Regions from separate parts of the Homo sapiens genome. Here all the other regions are reported to be linked to region 3. The links are microRNA targets in miRTarBase. Many come from high-throughput screens and were not tested one by one. Region 3 holds a microRNA gene; each other region holds the end of a gene's coding sequence.
Evidence for each region. Region 3 holds the annotated microRNA hsa-miR-103b (UCAUAGCCCUGUACAAUGCUGCU, at 1,948-1,970, opposite strand). A microRNA usually pairs through its seed, bases 2 to 8, with sites in the 3' UTR of a target mRNA and lowers its output. Matches are read on the target gene's strand: a 7mer-m8 pairs with bases 2 to 8, a 7mer-A1 pairs with bases 2 to 7 and ends in A, and an 8mer does both.

Region 1 (4,580 bases), not on the chromosome of region 3:
GAAACCCTAAGTTCAACCTCTGGCTCTGCCTCTTACTTGTCTTCATGGGCCAGTTGCTTCTCATTTTTTGCTTATAAAATGAAAAGATTGGACTAGATCCTCTTTTACAGCCCCCTTGCAGCTCTAAGAATCTTTGAGGGGGCATTTCAGGAGGTCAACAAACATCTGGGCATTAGTGAAGTGGGGGTCACATGGCTAGTAAGTGGTCACTCAGATGCAAATTCATTCTGACTTTGGTGATTATTCTGACACCACACCACTGTCTCCCTGTTGCCTCTGCTAGCACAGCCAGTCATTGTCTCTTACAGCCTCACTGCTCACAGCATTGCCCAAGGACCAGCAGAGCAGGCATTACCTGGGAGCTTGTAAGGAATGCAAAATCCCAGCCCTCACCCCAGACCCACTAACTCAGTTTAATAGAGGAGCCTAATAAACCACCTGTCCACAGAAACGGTGATTCATGTCTACTTTTCTTTGTTTGCATATTTCAGATTTGAATTTGGCCAGGAAACATCCCAAACTCTGAAGCTTGAAAATGCCTTGTATTTTGATCGAAAATACCTTTTTGCAAATTCCAAAACTTACTTCAATCTAGCTGTAGATGAAAAGGGCCTTTGGATTATCTATGCGTCAAGTGTGGACGGCTCGAGCATTCTTGTAGCACAACTGGATGAGAGGACATTCTCAGTGGTGCAACACGTCAATACCACGTACCCTAAATCCAAGGCTGGCAACGCCTTCATTGCCCGAGGAATCCTCTATGTCACAGACACCAAAGATATGAGGGTCACATTTGCCTTTGATTTGTTAGGAGGGAAACAGATCAATGCAAACTTTGATTTAAGAACTTCCCAGTCTGTTCTTGCCATGTTAGCATACAACATGAGAGATCAGCATTTATATTCATGGGAAGATGGCCATTTAATGCTTTATCCTGTGCAGTTTTTGTCAACTACCTTAAATCAGTGATGTGCTGCATTCGGCTCCCTTCAGCAAATTTCAGGGGTTTTCTGGGACCAGTTCTCCCCCAACAGGAAACTTGTTTTTTTAACGTCAGCCAGATATTTAGAAAATAACCTCAAAAGTGTTTATATGGTCAGTGAGCCCCGCTTAGTGAAATAGCAACAGATTGGAAGTTGAAATGGCTGAGATTTGGTGATCTCCCCACAGCTGGCTCTGCAAGTTACCTCTTTCTCCTTGGGCCTTAGTTTCCCCATTGGTAATCTGAATTGGCTAAGATGATTGGGGAGATTTTCTGTACCTGTAGGTAATTTGGTGATTCTTGGTGGCTGCTCTTCTCACAACTTTTATGTATCTGCTTCTGTCGTTTAGCTTTTTTAGCCACATGCTGACCAAATTTACCTTTGAGTTGATAAGTCCAGTGGCTTGAGTAGTGAATCCCTCAGTGCTGACTTATATCTTGTTCTTTGAAAAAATGCATTGACTCTTTAAGACATCTAAAGTATCACATTATCCATAATTTATTGCTTTTCTTTGCATCTGCACCTGCCACCACAGAATAACCATTACCCTCAGCTGCTGATTGGGCAGCTCTGAGATTAGCAAAAGCCAGGGACAGCTACATGTTCAGGTTTTTTTTTTTTTTTTTTTTTCAATAAGCTATTTTTTTTCTTTTCTTATTTTAAATAGAGAGAGAGTCTTGCTATGTTTCCCAGGCTGGTCTTGAACTCCTGGGGCTCAAGTGATCCTCCTGCCTTGGCCTCCCAAAATGCTGGATTACAGGCATGTGTGCCTGGCCCAGGTTTCTTAATAAAACAGAATCATGATCTTCCAGGTTCCCCCCAGTTTCTGATCATGTTGATTTGTAGCTGTGGATCATGAACACTGAATCCTCAGATCACTCTGACTTCTTATGCTTCTCCTGTGGATCCACTATCAAAGTACTAAATGCTGTGTAAGTAGACGTTAATCTGGCTGGAACCATGGGAAGCACTTTGCAGTGTTCAGAAGAGAGGCTCCATTTGTGGCTATTATGTAGAACTGGGCCAGAGCCAGTCCATTGCCTGTTTTTTTAAATAAGGTTTTACTGAGCACAGCCACACTCATTTGTTTATGCAGTACGGCCTGACATTGCTTTTGCTCTGCAACAGCAGAGTCGAGTCATTGCAACAAAGAGCATATGGCCCCACAGTGCCTAAAATATTGACCAGCTACCCCTTTATGGAAAAAGATTGCTGACTCCTGATAAAGAATATAAAGTGAGCCTGATTCTTGAAAAAATCAGAACCAGAGCCTGTTTTGTTTTGTTCTAAACTAAGAAGCCGCATAGGATGTGACTTGCGTTTTGAGTAGAGGGGAAGGCTGATAACGGCGTAAGATGAAGTGGCCCTCCACAAAGGCTGGTTAGGGGACAGTTCTTTCTCTAACATAGTTTTAAAGGATGTGATCTGGTCCCCTTGGATGCCAGGAGAGAATCCAGTTGAACTTGCTCCTAAATGCTCTTAAATATGCATATTTTCTGCCAACTCACTTCTTTAAACATCTTTCAGCCCAGCGCTGCGGCCCCGGGAAGGGCCACTGCGAATAGAGAGGAAGCTGGAAAAGTTCCTGGGGCTCTGCAGCCAGGAAGGGGAACCAGGGCAAATCTTATGTAAAGATTTTTCAGCAACTTGTCCCAATTTGTGTGTATTCTGAAACTTTCTCTTTGGGACCAAATTCATTCTCAATGGCCCTGAGTTCAATATATTATTAACAGCAGTATTTTAAAACTTAGGGTTGAACTGGGCATGGTGGCACATAACTGCAATCCCAGCTACTTTGGAGGCAGGGATGGGAGGATCACTTGAGGCCAGGATCTCAGGACCAGCCTAGAGAGATCCCATCTCTAAAAAATAAAATATAAGAAAATAAAACTTAGGGGATATACAGATTTAAATATTCAAATCTCCCTGCTCCCCTGAAAGTCCCCAGGCAGCTGTCAATGACTTGTTTGTTGTGTTCTCAATATGATGGCTATTTGAAACTTCACCTACTTTTCATTAGATTGGTTGTACCATGTCACCTTAGCTTTTAAAAATACTCTTTTCAGATTCACGTTCTCTAACAAAGAGTCTCATGTTCAAGATCAATATGTCTAATAAGTGCTGGTGTCCTTTTAAAGTATTTAAATATATATGTTGCTGTTGCTGAATACAGGAGACCAGGTTAGGAATATAGTTTCATAATAATAGTACATACAATACTAATTGTATATAAGGTAGCAACCAAAAGAGGTTGTTAATTAGCACATATTCCTTTTAGAAAAATGTTTCAGAAACCTCAGTCTTGATATCTGAGCTATCTGGGCTCCCTTACTTGTGAGTAAGGGATCATGCTCACCACTGGAGAAGCTTACACCGGGACTTTTTTTCTTTTTTCTTTTTTTTTTGCTATGACAGAGTAATGCTAACGTAAGGACAACTGAGTTTGATCAGTGTTTAATCGCAGTGGGTAATCTTATCTGATTGTCTTTAAAAGTGAAAAGGATTAAGATTTTATTCTTTCTTGTAAACATTACTTGATTTTTTAAAGAAGTTTTGGGCTCACTGCTAAAATAGAGTATACAACTGAATGTTTTTAAGTCAAGATACTGTTTTAGGAGTTTACCCTCTCATTTATAACCAAAGTTGCTCTAAAACACTTTCCAAATATCTGCACTTCTGATGTCAGAATCAAACCAGATAATTCTCTAATTCTTCTTTAATCTAAAGTAGATAGCTTCCCACTGGAAAGTAAACAAAACCATCCCTCCCAACCTCAAAGCTAGGCCACACTCTATTTCAAGGCATTTTCTTTCAGCTGATAAGGTGTCCTCCTGAAGCCAAGTAGGTGGTTCTGGTCTCCAAGTATCGTTAAGCACAGGTGCTATGACAGAAAAAGTTCTGGGGTGGAAGTTTTAAGATGAGGAGTTCTGATCTTAGGCATCTTAACAGTCACAAGGTGAAAAGTCAAATGAAACAGTACAATTCTTGATGAGTGAGGTGTCATCTTCCAACCACACAGAGGACGTTTTGGCTATGATCATCTGATGGCAAGTGAAGGAGAAATGAGTGATAGGGCTTTGCGTTTTCATCCAGATGCTGTGGCCCTGTGTTTCACAGCATTAAGAGCCATAATTTCCAACCTGCACAGATCCTGAACAACAAATGAATAACGATGAATGTCTTTTTGGTTGTAATTTAACAAGTCAAATAAAATAATCATTGCTGAGCACAATCACATGTTGAAACAAGTGTGTTGTTATTTTTACCTCTTGTTAATGTATACGTAACATTTAAAAGAAAAAATCCAAAACAATATTGTGGTAGAATTATATTAGTTGCTCCTCTGTGGAAACTCAATTTGCTAGCTCCTTCTGAATACAGTACTGAAAAATTGTTGATATGGACTGTCTCTTCTCTATAAGAAAACATGAGCGATGGAAATCTAGTACTAGAACTGGGTTATACGTAGACATAAATGCAATCAAGCTTTGCCAATTCATCAGCATGGGCAAGGCAATTGAGGACATAATATTTGAGGCTAAAAATTGAAAGAACAAAAATTTAAAACTGGATTTATGTGAATTTGGGCAAGTCTCT
Region 2 (4,580 bases), not on the chromosome of region 3:
TCCCGGGGTTCAAACAATTCTCCTGCCTCAGCCTCCCGAGTAGCTGGGATTATAGGCATGTGCCACCACGCCCAGCTAATTTTGTATTTTTAATAGAGACAGGTTTTCTGTATGTTGGTCAGGCTGGTCTCGAACTCCCAACCTCAGGTGATCTGCCCGCCTTGGCCTCCCAAAGGGCTGGAATTACAGGCATGAGCCACTACGCTCGGCTGGTATAAGTTTTAGGAACACCCAAATCCAACCACTGTGATCTAGGCAGTGGGCAGAATATGGTCTTGATGAAATCAGTGGTAGAACCCAATGAATGGCTTGATGAGGTGAGAGCCCTGTGGTGGACATGAATGTTAGGACAGCAGCTTCTACTTACTTACTACATGCCAGAAGCTTTACACACATTTAACCCTCACAATTGTCTTCTGAGGTATTATTTATGGATGAGAATACTAAAGCTTGAAGATGTTAACTTGCTTAAAGTTACACTGTAAGGGACACAGCTGTGATTCAAACACAGACCAGAACTCCACAAACTGGTGCCTTTAACTAGTTCATTGCATTTTTCAAATGGATATTCTGTAAAGCTCCACTCTTCAATATTTTCAGAGATATGCCTTATGTTCTCACTTGTAATATAACCAAGTATCCTAGCCTTGAAATGCATTTTAAAGTTTTTTTTTTCCTTTTTTTTTTGAGACAGAAGTCTCTGTTTCCACGCTGGAGTGCAGTGGTGCAATCTCGGCTCACTGCGACCTCTGCCTCCCAGGTTCAAGCAATTCTCCTGCCTCAGCCTCTCAAGTAGCTGGGACTACAGGCGCGTGCCACCACGGCCAGCTAATTTTTGTATTTTTAGTAGAGACGGGGTTTCACCATGTTGGCCAGGATGGTCTCGATCTCTTGACCTCATGATCCGCCTGCCTCAGCCTCCCAAAGTGCTGGGATTACAGGCGTGAGCCACCGTGCCTGGCCCTTTCTTTCTTAATTTCAGAATGTAGTCTTGTTAAAACCGTTTCCCTCCCTTTCCCGCCTCACACTCCCTTATACTATGCACATTTATCTAACTGTACACTTGTTAAACTTACACTATACACTCTTATCTATAGGGTCTTAACTCTCTTGCCCAGGCTGGAGTCCAGTGGCACGACCATGGATCACTGCAGTCTCTACTTCCCTAGCTCAAGCAATCCTCCCACCTCAGCCTTTTAAGTAGCTGGGGCTACCACATCCGGCTTTTTTTTTTTTTTTTTTTTTTTTTCAATTTTTAGTAGATTCAAGGTCTCACTACGTTGCCCAGGCCGATCTAAAACTCCTGGGCTCAGGTGATCCTCCCACCTTGGCCTCCCCAAAGTGCTGCGATTATAGGTGTGAGCCACTGTGCCTGGCCCATCAAGGGCTAATCATGACATATACCAGGCTTGGAGACCCAGCTGCAAAATTCCAGAGATTACCTTAAGGTGGTTAGTCAACAACCCAGCCATTGTTGAGATGATGCCAGCCCCCACTCCAGGTGGACCACAACTCAAGATAGCCACTACAGCAAGCCACAGAGATCTGAAACCCTGCACCACTCCCGCATGCCTCCCATTCTAAGTTCCCTTTTTAAGCACCTCTCCCCAGCCTAAAGTTCAAAATGATTTCTTTAAGGTACTAGCTTTGGCCATTTCCCCACTGCTAGCTCTGGAATAAAGTCACTTTCCTTTTCCTGCATCTCCTCCTTGTTGTTGACTTTGCAAGTGGCGTGCAGCCCAGCCTGCATTCAGTTACAATAAATGGGAGCTAAATCTTGGATTCACATGGACAAAAAGATGGGAACAGTGGACACTGGGGACTCCAAAAAAGGAGGAAGGGGCAGGGGCAAGGGCTGAAAAGCTTCCTTTTGGGCACTATGTTCACTGTCTGGGTGACAGGATCAGTAGAAGCCCAAACCTCAGCACCATGCATTATACACTTGTAACAAACCTGCACATGTACCTGCTGAATCTAAAATTAAAAAAAAAAAAGATATGCCTTAAAAAATGTCCATGAGCAGGCCGGGTGTGGTGGCTCACGCCTGTAATCCCAGCACTTTGGGCGGCCAAGGTGGACGGATCACCTGAGGTCAGGAGCTCACGACCAGCCTGGCCAACATGGTGAAACCCTGTCTCTACTAAAAACACAAAAAAACAATAGCTAGGCATGGTGGCAGATGCCTGTAATCCCAGCTACTCGGGAGGCTGAGGCAGGAGAATCACTTGAGCCCGGGAGGCGGAGGTTGCAGTGAGACGAGATTGTGCCATTGCACTCCAGCCTGAGTGACAAGAGTGAGACTATGTCTCAAAAAAAAAAAAAAAAGTCCATGAGCAAATCAGTTGGGAAATGTTGAGTGTTTACTGTATTCCAAGACATCTTTTTTTTTTTTTTTTTTTTGAGATGGAGTCTCCCACTGTCACCCAGGCTGGAGTGCAATGGCTCGATCTTGGCTCACTACAACCTCTGCCTCCCGGGTTCAAGTGATTCTCCTGCCTCAGCCTCCCAAGTAGCTGGGACTACAGGCACCCGCCACCATGCCCAGCTAATTTTTTATATTTTTAGTAGAGACAGGGTTTCACCATGTTAGCCAGGATGGTCTTGATCTCCTGATCTCGTGATCTGCCCATCTTGGCCTCCCAAAGTGCTGGGATTATAGGCGTCAGCCACCACACTCGGCCTCCAGGACCTCTGAGAGCCTTTACTGTAAACCTAAAGATCACACCTGTAATCCCAGCACTTTGGGAGGCCGAGGTGGGCAGATCATGAGGTCAAAAGATCAAGACCATCCTGGCCAACATGGTCTCTGTAAACCCCGTCTCTACTGAAAAAAAAAATACAAAAAGTAGCTGGGCATGGTGGTGTGCACCTGTAGTCCCAGCTACTTGGGAGGCTGAGGCAGGAGAATCACTTGAACCTGGGAGGCAGGGGTTGCAGTGACCCGCTGCACTCCAGCCCGGGTAAAAGAGCAAGACTCCGTCTCAAAAAGAAAAAAAAAAAAATCAGAGAAAATAGCAAATGGATTGGCTGGCCTTTCCAGACTAACTTTTTATCCTGTCCCTCCTCTTTCTAACTGTATAAAGTGAATAATTAATGGTAGAGCTCTTACCGTTAGTATCAGTTTCAGGAATACCCAAATTTTCAGATTTGGGGATACTTGCATATACATAATAAGATATCTTGGAGATGAGACCCAAATTTAAACATGAAGTTCATTTACGTTTCATATATACCTTATACACATAGCCTGAAGGTAATTTTACACAATATTTTAATTAATTTGTCCTACGATTTAATTCTTTAAAACTTTTTAAATTTTATTATAAAATAACACTTCCAGGATACGGACTTGCTGTGGGAGGAATATGTAATCAGGCCACTCAAAAATGCCTGCACTTGAGGCTGAGCATTTAAAAATGAATGTTCATATGTAACAAAAATTAAATGATGTATTTTTTGTATTAAAATTAAAGAAATATGTTGGATAATCATTATAATAAAGAATATGCTCTAAGAATGGGGATAAAAGCTGTTGGGCGCCCCTTGGTACCACCATTTCATAGAAGATCATAGTTGTAAACAAGCAGAAGGATGATGCAATCTCTGACATAATTAAAACCGGGTAAACCACAATAAGTGTGTTCCAGCAATTTGTCAAGTTATTTGTCCAGGTCTATCATAGCTACTGAGCAAATGGGTTGGCATGAATAGTTATGTCCTTAATGTGTACATCATTAAGAGGTCGGTATGTCTTCTCATTTACTGGCAACTTCTCCAACTCATCTAGAGTTTCCAGACCATCTATTACCCTGAAAGAGAAACAACATAACATATGAAAATTTCCTTAAATTGAAACATGATATCCATATCTATGACAATTACAGTCTCCTTAAAAAATAATCAAGTCTTACAGATCTCTGAGTTCTCTAGTTGAATGTACAACAAAATGTTGATTTTCCATCATAGATATGGATCAAAATTCAGAAATAATTTACTTTTATGCCCTTAGTCAACAATACAAAGGGTAGGAATATTTCCACCATAGTACCTAAAATTATATTCTACCCCATTCATACAGTGACAGAGAACAGCTACAAATGGGACTAATATAACCAGTTAAAGGGAAAACAAACTGTTTTTCTACACTTTCATACTTCCAACACCAAATGTGTGGGTTTTCCCAGTTCTCCAATTCTCTGGGTATCCCACAACTTGATTATTTTTTCAAAATTTTATTTAATTTTTTAAAGACAGGATCTCACTGGGACTACAAATGCATGCCCCCACACCTGGCCCTATAATTTAATTGTGACACTAACTACAAGGAGTGAACAGAGACCCCGGTTAATCCCACAAGACAGCCCCTACCACTTCGGATGCCAGTTCCAAGTCCCGATTGTGATCTGTACTATCTGACTAACCATGATATAATTTGGGATTTTTCATGCCCCCCAGCTCTGTTCAATAATTTTCAAAAATGGCTCATAGAACTTAGGAAAGCACTTTATTTATTACTATGGGCTATTATAAAGGTTACAACTCAGGAACAACCAAATGGAGGAGATGCATAGGGCAAAGTC
Region 3 (4,580 bases):
CAGTTTTAGCTCTTATATTTAGCTCTTATATTTGATCCATTTTGAGTAAGTTTTTGTGTATGGTGTGAGGTAGAGCTCCAAGTTCATTTCTTTTTGCGTGTGGATATCCAGTTGTCCTAGTACCATTTGTTGAAAAGATGATTCTTTCCCTGTTAAATTCTCTTGGCCCCTTTGTCAAAAATTAGTTGACCATAGATGTTTGGGTTTACTCCTGGACTCTTAAGTTATGTTCCATTGATATATATGTCTGTTTTTATACCAGTACCATACTGCCTTGATACTGTAGCGTTGTATTAAGTTCTGAAGTAAGAAAGTGTGAGTCATCCAACTTGTTCTTTTTTCGAGATTATTTTGGCTATTCTGGGTACCTTGAGAATATGAATTGTAGGGTTAACTTGGCAAGGTCTGTAAATAAGACAACTGGGATTTTAATAGAGATTACATTGAATCTTTTGGCCATCCTAATACAAAGTCTTCTGATCCAAAAAGATGGAATGTCTTCCCATTGATTTAGATCTTTGCTTTCTTTCAGCAGTGTTTTGTAGATTTTATTGTACAGGTGTTAATACTTTTGTTAGATATATCCGTAAGTGTTTTATTCTCTAATGCTATTATAAATGAAATCATTGTCTCCATTTTGAGATCGTTTAGAAGTACAATTGTTTTTCGTATATTGGGGCACATGGCTTTTACTAATAGAAAAATCATATGTATACATGCTTGTTTACTAAGTTTTAGGCACTTGGTCAATGCTGTTGATTTTCTGTTTGTAACATTTGCTCGTTGGTCATCACTTCCTTTTCTGATTGGAAAATTATTGTAGCAGTTCTGCTGAGCATGTACTTTGAAGTACTTTATCTTCTAGGGAAACCTGAAATTCTTAAGCAGCTCACTCTGGGACTCAGCTGTCTGTGCTTTACTCTGCTCTGATAGAGCAGTTTACCAGATGTGCATGTGGCCATCTGAGTGGAACAGCTGTGCAGTTGAGATGAATTGCTGTTAGAGGTGTTGTCCTGGAACTGTCTGGTTGCAGGAGCAATGGTGCCTTCCAGTGCATCTGATGAGATTCTAACTGAATATGTGAATATCTGGTATCCAAGCTAGATTTCAGTAGAAACCGCAGGGAAAGCTGTCTGCTCATTTAGAATGTTGGAGGGCTCTGTTTGAAGTTTGCATTTCTCTTTGAACAGATGCTCCATTGCAAAATAAAAGGTTTGAAGATTTCAACAATGTTGCCCTAAAAGCTAATTTTATTTCAATAAAGTAACATTCAAGTTCTGTTGGGCTTTGTTGCTGTTGGTTTAGCAATGGGATTTTTTTTCCCCCATCACAGCTTTGGAAACATGATGAGCAAGGAGAAGCGAGAGGCTGTCAGTAAAGAGGACCTGGCCAGAGCGACTTTGATCACCATCACCAACAACATTGGCTCAATAGCAAGAATGTGTGCCCTTAATGAAGTAAGGGGACATGGATTTCTTTAATTGCTCTAAGGAAAATACTGAACTTAAGTGGGCCCCATCACGTCTGTTTTCTCAGAACAGTGCCTAAATGTAGTCATTTGGGGTGGGGTTTGTTTTAGCACGAAGTTAAAACTCTTCAAATACAGATTAATCTTCTTTTTTTTTTTTTTAAACTGAAGATAAACATTGCTACTTGTCTAGAGGTAAAATGACATCTTTTGAGGAGAAAGTAGAGGAAGAGTGGAAGGTAGCCAGTGTTCCAGATATTGGGGACTGTTGGGGGTGATGATGGATAACGATGCTGAATGTAGACTCCACACTCACTGCTGAGCTCTAGAGGCCCTAGGGAGGAATCCAGAGGAAGTCACGGAAGCTGGGAGAAGACTGAGCAGGCCGAGGGGTGCCCTCCTTGGCTCCCCCACCTCAGCAGAGCTGCGTCTTTGTGCTTTCAGCTTCTTTACAGTGCTGCCTTGTAGCATTCAGGTCAAGCAGCATTGTACAGGGCTATGAAAGAACCAAGAATGGGCTGCCCTTGGGAAAAGAGGATCTAGGATCCAGTTGGTGCAGCTTATGGCTTGTCCCTGTGTGTATAGTTGTTAAATTATTCTTTTATTTTTATTTTTAAGAAGTTATTCTTTAGATAATAATAGGCATGTAGCTTAAAAGGAAACCTCAAAAGACACAAAGGATTTGTCTCATTTTAAATTAAAAAAATACTGTATCAGCATCAAGTAATTAAACATTTGTTGGAATATCATAACTTCTTTTTTCTTTATTGTATGTTCCCTTTCCTGTGCTTACGTATTTTCAGAAATTTTAGTTGGTGTGCATACCACAATTTGTATTTTATACTTAAATATACATTTCATGGTTGTATATTTATTTGATCAAGTTCTTTTATATCAAATAACAGAGCTTGGCATTTGGTTGCTTGCTCATAACTCGGCAGTAAGCATTTTTAAGCATGAAGTTATTCTTTGGTTGAATTTTATTCTTGATATGGGGCTTAGGAGTGAGATTTCTGGTCTACAGAAATGATCATGCTCATGAATTTTGACATTTATCGTCATGATGCTTTGCACAAGGGCTGCACCAATTTAGATCATCTTTAGCGGTGAATGAGTGGATTAATTTTACTACAACTACTGATGGTGGTGGTGGAATTTCAGTTGCTTTTTTTTGCGAGGTTAATAGGTCTAAAATTTTACTTTTGTTTGATGACTAGTGGTTTGAATTTTTCGCTGCCTGTTATATTGCTTGTATACTTTGCCTGTTTGTGTCACTGTCCTTTTGGATTGGAGTCATACTGTTTTTTTTTGTTTATTTTAACTTATCTGTATAAAACATTGTATTCAAAACTAGTTATTGTTGGTCAGATTTAATACAAATGTTTTTCCTAATCTGTTTTCTTCTCCTGTGACATTATCTAGCATGCTTTGCAGTGGGTCCAGAGTTGTCTGGGGATCAAGTTTAAGTAGCCCTGGACCAACTGGACTAAATTTGATCAGCAGTCAAATTGTTGCTAAGAGCTATGCACATGGTGCTGTATTTGGGGTAGCTTTTATGAGAAAATAGAAATTAAGATGAAAACTAATTGCCTTTTTTTGGTGTGCTCAGAACATTAACCAGGTGGTATTTGTTGGAAATTTCTTGAGAATTAATACGATCGCCATGCGGCTTTTGGCATATGCTTTGGATTATTGGTCCAAGGGGCAGTTGAAAGCACTTTTTTCGGAACACGAGGTAAGCTGACTTGTTCGTTGTGGTATATTATGTACACAGAGGGCTTGTGGGTCACACTGTCATGGAACTTGAGGTAGAGGGTGGAGGTGAAATGGGCTGCAGTGTTTCTTTTGTTTTTTGTTTTTTTGAGACGGAGTCTCGCTCTGTCACCTAGGTTGGAGTGCGTGGCACAGTCTTGGGGCTCACTGCAGCCTCCGCCTCCTGGGTTCAAGCAGTCCTCCCACCTCAGTCTCTTAAGTAGCTGGGATTACAAGTGTGCGCCCCCACACCCTGCTAATTTTTGTACTTTCAGTAGAAATGGGGTTTCACCATGTTGGCCAAGCTGGTCTGGTCTCAAACTCCTGACCTTAAGTGATCTGCCAGCCTCAGCCTCCCAAAGTTCCAGGATTACAGGTGTGAACCACTGTGCCTGAACTTTTTTGGTAGTTTAATTTCGTAACATTTGAAAGCTGTTTCTTCCCTGATACTAATGCAAGGTAAATTTTGGGTTAATTTAATTGTAAGCTTAAGGAATTTTAGAGAAAAACCCTTGAACATTCCCCTATATTTCTGATGCCATATTTTTGTCTGAACTATCCTCTATATTTTTTCTATTGCACTGACTGTGTCATTACTCTGGGTTCTGGTTTTTTCATTTTTTTCAGTGCCAGTTTTTATATATTGTTGTAATTCTTGTGCCAGTTATTTAAGATGCATGTTGTAAAAATGAATAGATGAGTAAACCTCTCAGACTAGAACCATACTATCATAAGAACTTAAGTACAATTGTAGACAGGCTGGAAATGATGAAATGGAAAAGAATCAAATTGCTCAACCTCATAGCCTGTCTTGGAAAGCACTCTTATTTTTCCTATTTGGGGAAAAAGAAGCAGAGGTATGGAAAGGCGTGTAGGGGTTCTTTCTTCCCTTCTTGGTTGTGGGGCAGTTGAACTATTCTTTCAACTGTTCTTGGATTTTAGATACTGTTATTATGAACATTTTTCAGAATTGTATTGCATATTTAGTTTAACAGTCTATATGAATTAAAGGAAATCAAAGTCCAGATAATAGCACAGATTTGAAGTGCTAGAGATTACTTTTTCCTTTAAAGTTACTTTAAGTTTTTCTTTTTAAATTGCTTTAGTTCATAGTTGAAGTCCAAAGTACACAAATCCCCATATCAAAAAGCTTAAAATTGAAGTCATCTAACTTAGTTTTAAAATTCTAACATTACTGTATTTGTAAACCAGCACCGAATTGCCATTAAGTTTCTTACAGTTCATGTTTCTGTATACATCTTTTTTTGTGATCTGACTTATTTTATTTTGCTTTATATTAGAATTTTTTAAACTCGAATGTTAGATCTTTTTCTGCTTTATTTCTGCCTCTTGTTTAACC
Region 4 (4,580 bases), not on the chromosome of region 3:
AGTGTAAAATAGGAAATCATAAGAAACTAGAGAAGCTAAGTGGCTCTATGCAATAAAGAACTGAGCCAGTTGAAGGATGTTCATAGGCAATGTTGTGAAAGAGTGGATAAATACATGGGATGGATGTCATGTGGGACAAATACTAAAGGAAATATTCAGATGGGCAGAAAAGAAACTGAAGCAATTTTGCTTTGTGTTTTGAATGCATTCTCTTTTTCTCAAGATACGTGATGAACTGATTACCTTTGAACGCTTTTTGCACTGATGAACTATTCTTCCTTTGAATGCAAATTTGTGCTGGTACTCGACCAAAAGTCGTACTTTATATGGGTTACATTAACATAAGGTTTTTAAGAGTCTGCACATCTGTACATTTAATCAGGTTGCATAATAATCTTGCAAGAAAGACAGGACAAAAATTGTTTTTCTTTTCCAAAATTGCAAATTGAGACTCAAGGAGGTTGAAGTGATTTTCCCAAGATAACACAGTGGGGATTTAAAGCTGTGTCAGCTTGTATTTTTTTCATTACTCCATAGGGCCTCTCTAAAATCAAAAATGCTTGGATATGCCCAAGAGCTACCAAATCTTGTTTCTTTCCTCTTCTTCCCTTTTCTTCAAGGACAACGAATTCAAATGAAACACAGCATTGTCCATTAAAATTTTCTTCAACCACGGAAGTGTTTCTTGTTATCCAATATGGTAGCCACAAGCCAGGCGTGGCTATTGAGCCTTTGAAATGTGGCTGGTGTGACTGAAGAATTACATTTTTAATTTAATTTTAATTAATTTTAATTTCAAAAGCCACGTTGGCTAGTGGATATAATATTGGACAGCACAACTCTAGAAGCTACATATAAGAGATTGGCAAATGCCCTTGATACCTCAAACTAAAATAGTAATTGGGGGTCAATTGCACTTTTAGTTTTCTAGGTGTTAGTATATCTTGAAGTCCAAACCCTTCACACACAAGCCACCATTTATGGTCAGTGCCATCTCTTGGGCTTAAGCCATTTATGCCTGAGGTTGCAATTTTTTGAATTTTTGCAACCAGACCTTGGTGATGACCTTGAGCAGTAGGCTCTAAATAACTCCCATAAGCTTAGCGTTCCAATAATGGAACACTAGACATAAATGGGTCAAGATATTTTTCTTGAGTTTCAGTATCTTTACCTAGTCACTGATTATTATTTTTACAAATAATTAAGCTGAAATAACTAAATTCCTCTGTAGCACCATTTATCTGATTTATCCAGAAGTTTGCATCTCTTTGTTATCTTTTTTTGTTATTCTATTATGTTCATAGTATATTAAGTAATGTACAGTTGCACCTTCTCTAATACATAATTATGTAAAGTCCAAAGCATTGATGACCATTTTGAATTTTCAGAAACTGTATGTTTTCTCACATGGGAACAAGAACAAACCAGAAATATAAAATAGAATGAGAGTTTCATGAAAGAAAAGGATTTAGCCCACATTTCCCCTTACCACTAAAGAATTCACACACCACACACTTCTCACTACCTTTAACTCTTAGTTCTGTTAAGAAGTTTTCCCACACTCCAGTTTCAAGAAGTTTTCTCTATTATTTGTTGCTTTGGTTCACTGAAGAATTCAGTGTTTATGTTTTTTTACAGAATTATCAATTGTTTTGAATCAAAATAGAAAATTGATTCAAAATTGTTTTGAATCAATTGTTTTGAATCAAAATAGAACGCTGAAGGGTATAAGAATAACATTACTACTTGAGAATTAAGTAGTACTTAAGGGACACAAACTAAGAATACACATGCAAGATTTATATAACTGTCAAACAGTTGCTATTGGAAGCCACAGCTACCACAAAAGGTAGTGAAAGAAGCATCATTTTATCCTAAAAGGAAGTCGTCTATGTGTTCCTTATGCATTTGTAGAATACCAGTTGCACCAGTAATATTGGCATGTCATTTGGTTATTGCTGTCTCACCAAACCTGCTCCACAAGAATAAGTGGGGATACTTCACATAAACCATACATAGCTGCTGCAAAGAGATTGTCATCACAATCCTTCAATCACCTTGCTTTTCAAAATTTTTTTTAATAGTTAACTAAGTTAGGAAAAAGTTACCATCTTCATCAAATACTTAAAATTGTAAAGCAAAATATATGGAATAGAAAATGGCATTCGTTCACGTCAGACACTTGTGATGATAAAGTATGGTACTCTGTGAGTGGACTGATGACCAAGGCAGATGTGTACAGATGCTAAACTGTTGGGAAAATGCTGCTTATGAGACATCTCTGCTTCTTGAGACCTGAATCTGCAAATGTTGAGCACTGTACCTTACAAAAGCCAACAGTTTCTTGGCACAGAGTGTAAAAGTTTCATGGGTTAGAATGTTGGTGAAATTGTACACTCAGTACCTGAATTTAAACTTTAGGAGCTCAGTATGTATATTAACCACTTTCCTTCTCAAGGGATGCCATTCCTTTCTTCATTCATGAGGAATTTTCAAAATCAGGATTGTGATTCCAAGGCAATCGATATCTCCATTTAAGGAGCTTTCTGCATCCACTTTATTTAGCCAGAGAGGGAAGGGGTTGACATAAACGAAAAAGTGGATCAAATAGTCAAGAACATGATGGGCGCGGCAATGAACTGAACCACTTTTGCTAAGTGACAGAAAAATATTCTAATATTAAGGATTATTTTACAACTCTATGGAAGTAATGCAGTGATGCATCTTGCATCTGTTTTGCCTTGATGACAAAACGCACTCTTAGAGTCACAAGATCCTGCCTTGTGTTAGTTATAAACAAAAATATATTTATATATATATATTTATGTAACTACTATGTGCTTTAAAGAAAATTACTGTATGATTCAGCAGGGTTTTTTCATTCTTTCTATCGCCATGCTGACGTGAATGGCTTCTTAGACAGGAATCAGCAATGAAATGGGTGTTTAGTACTGAAAAGGCATAAAATTAAAAATAATCATATGTTTAAAATCCCTTAACATTTTTGTTTCAAAAATGATTAAGGAACTCTTCATACTGTTTCCTTTTGTTTCCATCAGCCCAGAGCAACTGTGGTTTCATGGGACTTAACAGTTGGGGATTGGAGGTAAGGCTTCCATAAAGCATAAATCAGATGTTTTCATGCTGAGGCAGGAAAACAGAAAGCCCCGTTTGCCACCCCCTCTTCCCAAATCCTTAGTTAATTGTTCGGAAATTTTGTCACAGCTCATAGAAAGGTCATTCATTACAAAGGAAGAGGCAGACATGGTTTGAACCTCCTGTACGGATAAAAAGATTCGTTCTGTAAAGTGATGAACTTGTTGGTACAGATGGATCTAGACCAGAAAAACAACATCCTTTTGCCACACATCTGTTTTGAAAATGTAGAAAATCTCTTATTTTGTGTTTGTTCTCACTCTTGCATGGGCTGTTTTTCTTAGCAATCTTGAGACATTCATCATTGCTCTTTTGAGTGAAAGGGTTCAGGCTTTGGAAAACAGTTATCTTTGAGACATCAGAGAACATTTGAACCAAAGGTGTCGATCCCTCATGAACTAAAGCTTTATTATGATTTTTTTTTTCTGATCCCTTTGCAACCCTGCACCTAAGCCAAAAGCATTATAATCTTGTCATACTTCAGATAAGTCCACGGGAGATGTTCCGAGTGAACTATAGATGACATTCCACTAGGGAATTCTATGTTCAGTGTAAATGGTATCTTGTATAAGTTTTAGTTTTTTGTTTACCCTTTGTTTCCTGGGCTGAGCTTGTCCAGAAATCTTGTCTTCTTCAGGCTACAGCAGCTTAGAGCTTGTTTGTGTGTGTGTTTGTTTGTTTGTCTTAAAGGTATAGGCAAAATTTTAGTCTTAACACCTGTAAACCAGTACTGGTGTTGTTCTGTCCTAGAAATTTTAGCACTGCTCTGATACAATAAAGCCTTCTTTCTCTCCAACTGGTTCAACTTCAGCATAGGCAGGATGTCCAGAGCCTCTTCTAAACTTCATCGCAGGCCATCTGCTTGGGCGTCTCTGAAACAGAAAACACAAAAATAAAAAATGTGCGTCAGGGTAAGATTCTAGCACCAGAAAAATCTATTTGCTAGCTATTTTAGATTAAATGTTGAATTAATTAACACATTAAATTATCTCTTATTATAGCTACAGTCAGAATTAAGAATTCCCCTTATCAACCCTCCAAGCCCTGTGCTTGCATTTCCAAGATGGCGCTATCTACCCCTGTCACAGGAAAGACCATTTGTCACACCTGCCCTCAAAGGATTCAGAGCTTCTCCCAAGCAAGGTTTAATGCCTTATGCATATGTCTGAAATGCTCAAATATAACTAGGCAAAAAGGAACTGTAATAGAAAATATTTTTTAATATATGGGCACAGACACTCTCTCTTCTCTACAAGTCAATACTGATATCACTTCATTTTGTTCATTAATTCACTCAAAAACTAAGGTCAAAAAATTCTGCTGTTCCTAGAAGGGTATTTTCAATTAGGCACCAGACTTCCTAGCAAATAAGCTAAAAGAAATATCACTTAATATCTTAAGAAATTATTTATTTAGTTAAGCAT

Region 1: the mRNA of GLDN is a reported target of hsa-miR-103b. Seed matches in the 3' UTR shown: 7mer-A1 at 3,389-3,395, 7mer-A1 at 3,864-3,870 and 8mer at 4,013-4,020.
Region 2: miRTarBase lists PPIL3 as a target of hsa-miR-103b. Seed matches in the 3' UTR shown: 7mer-m8 at 3,242-3,248.
Region 4: miRTarBase lists PLXDC2 as a target of hsa-miR-103b. The part of its 3' UTR that is shown has no 7-base or 8-base seed match.

The regions. Positions count from the first base shown.
Region 1 is chr15:51,403,786-51,408,365 of GRCh38, forward strand. It overlaps GLDN (gliomedin), which reads left to right. Exons shown (of 10, transcript NM_181789.4): 10 at 492-4,215. The coding sequence ends at 969. Among named protein-coding and RNA genes, the nearest start is that of GLDN, 64 kb to the left of the region's middle.
Region 2 is chr2:200,867,713-200,872,292 of GRCh38, forward strand. It overlaps PPIL3 (peptidylprolyl isomerase like 3), which reads right to left. Exons shown (of 7, transcript NM_130906.3): 7 at 3,195-3,809. The coding sequence ends at 3,683. Among named protein-coding and RNA genes, the nearest start is that of CLK1, 5.3 kb to the left of the region's middle.
Region 3 is chr20:3,915,594-3,920,173 of GRCh38, forward strand. MIR103B2 (microRNA 103b-2) reads right to left here and starts at 1,970; the gene lies at 1,909-1,970. It overlaps PANK2 (pantothenate kinase 2), which reads left to right. Exons shown (of 7, transcript NM_001386393.1): 5 at 1,334-1,457; 6 at 3,078-3,203. It overlaps MIR103A2 (microRNA 103a-2), which reads left to right and starts at 1,901; the gene lies at 1,901-1,978.
Region 4 is chr10:20,279,151-20,283,730 of GRCh38, reverse strand. PLXDC2 (plexin domain containing 2) reads right to left here. Exons shown (of 14, transcript NM_032812.9): 14 at 1-4,028. The coding sequence ends at 3,912. Among named protein-coding and RNA genes, the nearest start is that of MIR4675, 270 kb to the left of the region's middle.